2 separate regions of the Homo sapiens genome follow, and region 2 is linked to region 1. A link means that fine-mapping ties the variant in region 1 to the plasma level of a protein whose gene starts in the linked region. Region 1 holds a variant in brackets. A gene starts in the other region. All regions are shown on their reverse strands.

Region 1 (2,911 bases):
GTTTCACCGTGTTAGCCAGGATGGTTTCCATCTCCGGACCTCATGATCCGCCCATCTCGGCCTCCCAAAGTGCTAGGATTACAGGCGTGAGCCACCACGCCCAGCCAAAAGGAATTAACTTTCTCAGCAGAATACCATGTCCATCAATCTTCAGAATTGCTTAAGATTCATCTATGGTCTCAAGACTCTTCTAGCTCCTAAATTTTTTCTACCATGTGTCTCTCTCAAATACATTTATACATTTTTGCTCATCTATTCAGTTTTCAAATTGTTCATCCTGCCTTGGTGGGGAGGGATCTTCCTTTATCTGTATTACCTATACAAGGTCTCCAATATTCCTTATAGCAACCTTCTGAGTTCTTCCTGCCTCTGAACTTTGCACTATATCTCCTTATTCTAAAGCTCTCTACCCTTTCAGGCTCCAAAAACGTTTCAGGAAATGGGATTTGAATAATTACCCTGTGTTCGGTACAAATATGGTATCAAGAGTCAGTTTCAACCCTTCAGCCAACTGAAAAACAAAGATTTAAAATAAATAATTAGTAATTTTCAATCATTTATCCAACTCAAGAAACCAATTCTAAAGTTTCCTGAGTTCTTTAACAAAAAAAAGGAGTCATTCAAGAAAGCAAAATATTAAATTATGTAATAAGTAAGCTCTCCATCCTCCTGTCCCCTCACCCCAGCCTTCATCATGGTTCTCCCACTAAAAAATGGGGCAAATCCTATTTTAGCAAGTTACATAAAATACAGTTCAAAACCAAACAGAATTCCCATACAACAAAATCATCTTGATACTCTCTTGAAAGAGCAGTAATGAGATAACCTGACATTTAACAAGCAGGCTAAGTCATTTTACTCAGTTTTGCATGTACATTATCTATACATGGTATCTCTATCAAAAACAGTGCCCTGTACATAGTGGGCACTTGACTATATCTAATAGATTTTCTCCTTGAAAACATGAGAACATTTTAGAAAAATTTTTCTGTCAAGCCAATTTTTCAACAATTACAAAACTAAACCAAATTTCCGCAAATAGTTTGTTCTACCCAGGAGAAGCTTAGCTGTGTAACAGAGAACCAGTCAGAACAAAGATGTAATATAGTAATTAGAGTACTCACAAACAAAGCCTTATTTTCTAGAAACATAAGACATCAAAAAAGGCCACATGCAGAGAAAAAATATGGCTACTAGATAGGTTGTAAGATCTCTTTTGATTATATTTGGGGTATGTTCATCATTCAATCTACAAGATAAATTGAACCTATGAATAACTTCTAATGCGTTCTCTTACCTTATTCTCCCAAGAGATTTCTGTCCCTAGAGTATTGTCTGTGTTCCATTTCTGGGTGAAGGTAAGTCCATAGTTACAGACCTTATATTTGGTTTCTAGGTTGCCTGATGCTTTCCCT[G/C]TATCAGTGTAAGCATGACCAGAAGTAGAAAATTCCTGGTAAGCAAGAAAAAATAATTACTTTAAAATTAGCTCATCAAATAGAAAATATTCACTTTGGAAAGCAGTGTTCAATGTATCAAAAACAATACCATTTACTGCTTGCCACAGCCCTACTCTAGAGCAACTTCTTTCCTCCTTTCCCCTTGCTTTTCCAGTCCCTAAATATTTTAACCAGTTCTGCCAGGCGCAGTGGCTCATGCCTGTAATCCCAGCATGTTACGAGGCCAAGGCGGGTGGATCCCTTGAGTCCAGGAGCTCAAGACCAGCCTGCGCAACATGGCAAAACCCCATCTCTACAAAAAATACAAAAAATTAGCCAGGCATGATGGCACGTGACTGTAGTCCCAGCCTGAGCCCAGGAGGCAGAGGTTGCAGTGAGCCGAGATCATGCCACTTCACCCTAGCCTGGGCAACGGAGTGAGACAGCTCAATACCAGTTTCAGATCTTTCCATTACTCTACTTCTCTTATTAATATCTCTTGTTCCATATACTCTCTTACCAAATGGTAATCCTAAATTCTCTCCTTTAAAAAAGAAGTATCTTTACTGAAAACAAATGCCTTTACTAAAAAGACCAAAAATATTGTATCTTAAACATTTTACTTTCATGACCTAAAAAAAGATTATCAGTTCTCTGCTATATGTTTCAAACTATCAGTTAATTTCAAGGTCCTTAAAAATCCCAAAATACTGCCCTCCTCCTTTTTAATAGGGTCAACACTTTACTACTTCCTTTTAAAAATGTTTTTTTTTATTGTGGTAAATACATGTAACATACATTTTACCATTTTAATAATGTTTTAAGTGTACAGTGAAGTGGCATTAAGTACAGTCACACTGCTGTGAAAACTTTAATGCTTTTGTGTGCAAAACTGCAAAACTTCTGCTTAGACAATTTCAATATTTGAAAGTACTACCCATTTTTCAAAATAAAGTAGAATGCTATAATTTATCCTTCTTTCCCCCTTTCTATCCTGTCTACCTTTAAGAGTGCTTTCTATCAAACAGTTACTATGAATGAGACTCTGTCTCAAAAAAATAAAATAAAATAAAATACATCCTTTGCCCTAGTTCAGTGCCCTTTAAGTCATATGACAATAAGCAATTAGAAATGGACCTCCTTCTGGGGAAAGCAGACAGCACCTGTCACTGACAATCTATGAACTGTCAAGAAAAAACATTCTGATTGGTCCTGTTTTAGGGAGCATTTCTGAAATCCTGCCAACAGTAATGAGATGCTGCCAACCCTGACCAGTCTTTTTCACTGCCTGCAACATGAATCCTCTCCTTAACAAATGCCCTGTCCCCTAACTCTAGTTCTACAGGCAGATGAGACAACTGGGAAGTTATGTTCTGTTTATCAAACCACACAGAATGGTTTCAAAGAGAGTATCATGCTGCACATTTAGGGGAAGGCCTTAGTAAAAAAAAAATGATAACATGTTAATCATGTTT
Region 2 (2,909 bases), not on the chromosome of region 1:
GTTGCAGTGAGCCAAGATCATGCCACTGCACTCCAGCCTGGGTGATGGGGCAGGACTCCACCTCAAAAAAAAAAAAAAACTTTCTTGAGGAAGTGGGAGGCTGAGGCAGGAGGATTGCTTGAGACCAGGAGTTTGAGACCATATGGGGCAACATGGCAAGACCCCGTTTCTACAAAAATTTTAAGTATTAGCCAGGTGTGGTGGTGCACACCTATAGTCCCAGCTATTTGGGAGGCTGAGGCAGGAGGATCTCTTGAGTCTAGAAGTTTGCGACCAGCCTGGGCAACATAGTGAGACCCCGTCCCAAAGGAAAAAGAAAATTGCAAAGTAGAGAAGACATTTGAAAGAATCAAACACGGCCAGGTGCTGTGGCTCATGCCTGTAATCCCAGTACTTTAGGAGGCTGAGATGGGTGGATCACCTTTGCTCAGGAGTCCAGACAAGCCTGGGGAACATGGCAAAATCCCGTCTCTATCAAAAATACAAAAAATTAGCCAGGCCAAGTGGCACGCGCCTGTGGTCCTGTACTTGGGAGGCTGAGATGGGAGGCTCTCTTGAGTCTGGGAGGTGGACATTACAATGAGCTGAGATCATGCCACTGCACTCTAACCTGGGTGATAGAGTGAGACTCCATCTCAAAAACAAATAAAATAAAAATTCAAGGCAGGAATAAAACAGTAACTACATAATGAGCTCACATTTTAATAAAAGAGATATAACAAATGAACAAAAGTCCATTAAAATGTTAGGGAAAAAACCCAATAGGATGAGTTACTAACTAGAAGGGGAGAAGGGATTTGGAGTGGTTAGGAGAGCCCTTTCTGAGAAGATAAGCTGAGACCTGTGCCAAGAGGGAGGCAGCCATGCAAATACTGAGAGGAAGGAAAAAAACGAAGGGCCAGTGCAGAGATCTAGAGAGGAAAAGAACTTGTCTTGCTGGAGAAGCAGTCAAGGTAGCCAAGGAGAGTACTGAGAAGAGTACGTTGGAGTGAGTAGGTAGGGACTCTATGGAGTAGGGCCTTAAAGGCGATGATTAGGCCAGGCGCGGTGGCTCACACCTGTAATCCCAGCACTTTGGGAGGCCGAGGCGGGTGGATCACGGTCAGGAGTTCAAGACCAACCTGGCCAAGATGGTGAAACCACGTCTCTACTAAAAATACAAAAAAAATAAGCCGGGCCTGGTGGCAGTCGCCTGTAATCCCAGCTACTCGGGAGGCTGAGGCAGAGAATTGCTTGAACACGGGAGGCGGAGGTTGCAGTGAGCCGAGATCGAGCCACTGCACTCCAGCCTAGGCAACACAGCGAGACTCCGTCTCAAAAAAAAAAAAACAAAACAAACAAACAAAAAAAAAAACAAAGGCAGTGATTAGCAGTTCGGGTTTTGTTTCCACTTACACTAGCGAGAGCATCAGTAATGAACAAGGGGAAGAGTGAAGCCACTGACTCGCGAGGTGACTGTGGGCAAGTTCCTGAATCTTGCTAACACTCTTTAACCCCCTGGAAAACTGTTCGCTAATCGTCACATTAAACGGCTGCGAACGGGCCACGGTCAAGGCTTCGGGGCTGCAGCCGCGAGTTTACCTGTCCTCCAGGACCGATTCCATGGGCTCCACCCCGTCTGTGTCCACGGCGCGTAGCCGGTCGGCGAAGGCGATAGCTTTCTCCAGTCGCGCCACTGCCTCGCGGCTGCCGAAGTCCACAAGCGCTAGACGCTCCAGGTGCTCGATCACCGCAGCCGTGATCCGGCCACTGCCCTGGAGGAGGGATGAGGCGGGGAGTGTGGGTCACCGGCGCTCCGAAGTGCCTCCCGGCTTGCTCCGCCACCCGCCTAGATGGCCCTGGCCTTTACCTGAGGATCCGCCTTGGAGGTGAAGCCCTGGCGCCCGCCCAGAGGGGCCCGAAGGCCCAGCCACACCAACCGCGACCACATTTCTTCCTTCCTTGGCCCCCGCAGTGCGCCCGCGCGTAACGCCGAGCGACGCGCCTGAGAGTGATGACATCAGAGTGCGCCGTCGTCGCCGCCGCCACCACTGTCGCCATGAACAGTGTGGGGGAGGCATGCACGGACATGAAGCGCGAGTACGACCAGTGCTTCAATCGCTGGTTCGCCGAGAAATTTCTCAAGGGGGACAGCTCCGGGGACCCGTGCACCGACCTCTTCAAGCGCTACCAGCAGTGTGTTCAGGTGAGCCCTCCCGCCTCTGTTCCCAGGCCCTGCATTCTCGGCGCTGTGTCCCACCACACTCATCGTATTTTACGGGGATTGGGACTGGACTGGAAGGGTGGAGAAAAGTCGCAGTGAGGCCAGTGGCAGGAGCTCGCTCCCCTACCATCACCACCGAGGCCACTTGGGTGTCTCTCCGAATGACAAATATTGGGGCAGTGCTTTTCAAGAAGCACAGTCACATCCTTTGGTTCATTTGGTGTTCACCCTAAACTCGCAAGGTGGGCATAGTTACTCATATTTTATACATAAAAAACTAACACCCAGAAATAGGAAGTGATTAATCCGAGTTCACTAGCATCAGGTTTCCTTGGTTCTTTCGCAGGTGGTGCACTTTTCCACTATTACTGCTGGGGTCTGGGCGGGATTATACTTCAGAATTCAGACTGGAGGGTCACATTTTTTTGTTGTTATAAACCCTTCGTTAGCCTGTTTCTCTCTCTTGACCAGTCCCCGCAACTGCAGCCAGGAAATGTTTATTCTGGCCCAATGGATGTGGAACTGCTTTGAATTGTTAAGAACAGCACCGGGCAAAGCACTTCCAATAAGTTAACCCAACACATCCTCACAGCAATTCCCCGAGGTAGTTGCTGTCTTCATCCCATTTACAGTTAGTCACATAGCCAGTAAGTCCTGGAACCCAGATTTGAACCTAAGTCTTTCACTAACACAAAGTGATGATTAT

Which allele goes with the higher level. Positions count from the first base shown, and alleles are read on the strand shown. Strength reflects both the effect of a copy and how common the allele is.
As copies of C replace G in region 1, the plasma level of the protein whose gene starts at base 2,027 in region 2 goes down (weak association).

Evidence for each region. A credible set is the group of variants that fine-mapping cannot tell apart. PIP is the chance, under the fine-mapping model, that this variant and not a neighbour inherited with it causes the effect. Protein levels are from antibody-based Olink assays in UK Biobank. Linkage for the fine-mapping came from a reference panel and not from the study's own genotypes, which makes the PIPs less certain.
Region 2: TRIAP1 starts here. The variant in region 1 is the best candidate, but not a certain one, in a credible set for the plasma level of the TRIAP1 protein (UK Biobank, PIP 0.82).

The regions. Positions count from the first base shown.
Region 1 is chr8:42,397,251-42,400,161 of GRCh38, reverse strand. It overlaps VDAC3 (voltage dependent anion channel 3), which reads right to left. Exons shown (of 10, transcript NM_005662.7): 5 at 1,298-1,450; 6 at 459-511. Among named protein-coding and RNA genes, the nearest start is that of VDAC3, 6.8 kb to the right of the region's middle. The variant G/C (reference allele first, on the strand shown) is at 1,416.
Region 2 is chr12:120,445,502-120,448,410 of GRCh38, reverse strand. TRIAP1 (TP53 regulated inhibitor of apoptosis 1) reads left to right here and starts at 2,027. Exons shown (of 2, transcript NM_016399.3): 1 at 2,027-2,185. The coding sequence starts at 2,039. It overlaps GATC (glutamyl-tRNA amidotransferase subunit C), which reads right to left and starts at 1,967. Exons shown (of 4, transcript NM_176818.3): 1 at 1,850-1,967; 2 at 1,582-1,754. The coding sequence starts at 1,930. RefSeq lists enhancers at 1,152-1,997, 1,831-2,125, 1,723-2,272, 1,487-2,686, 1,998-2,845.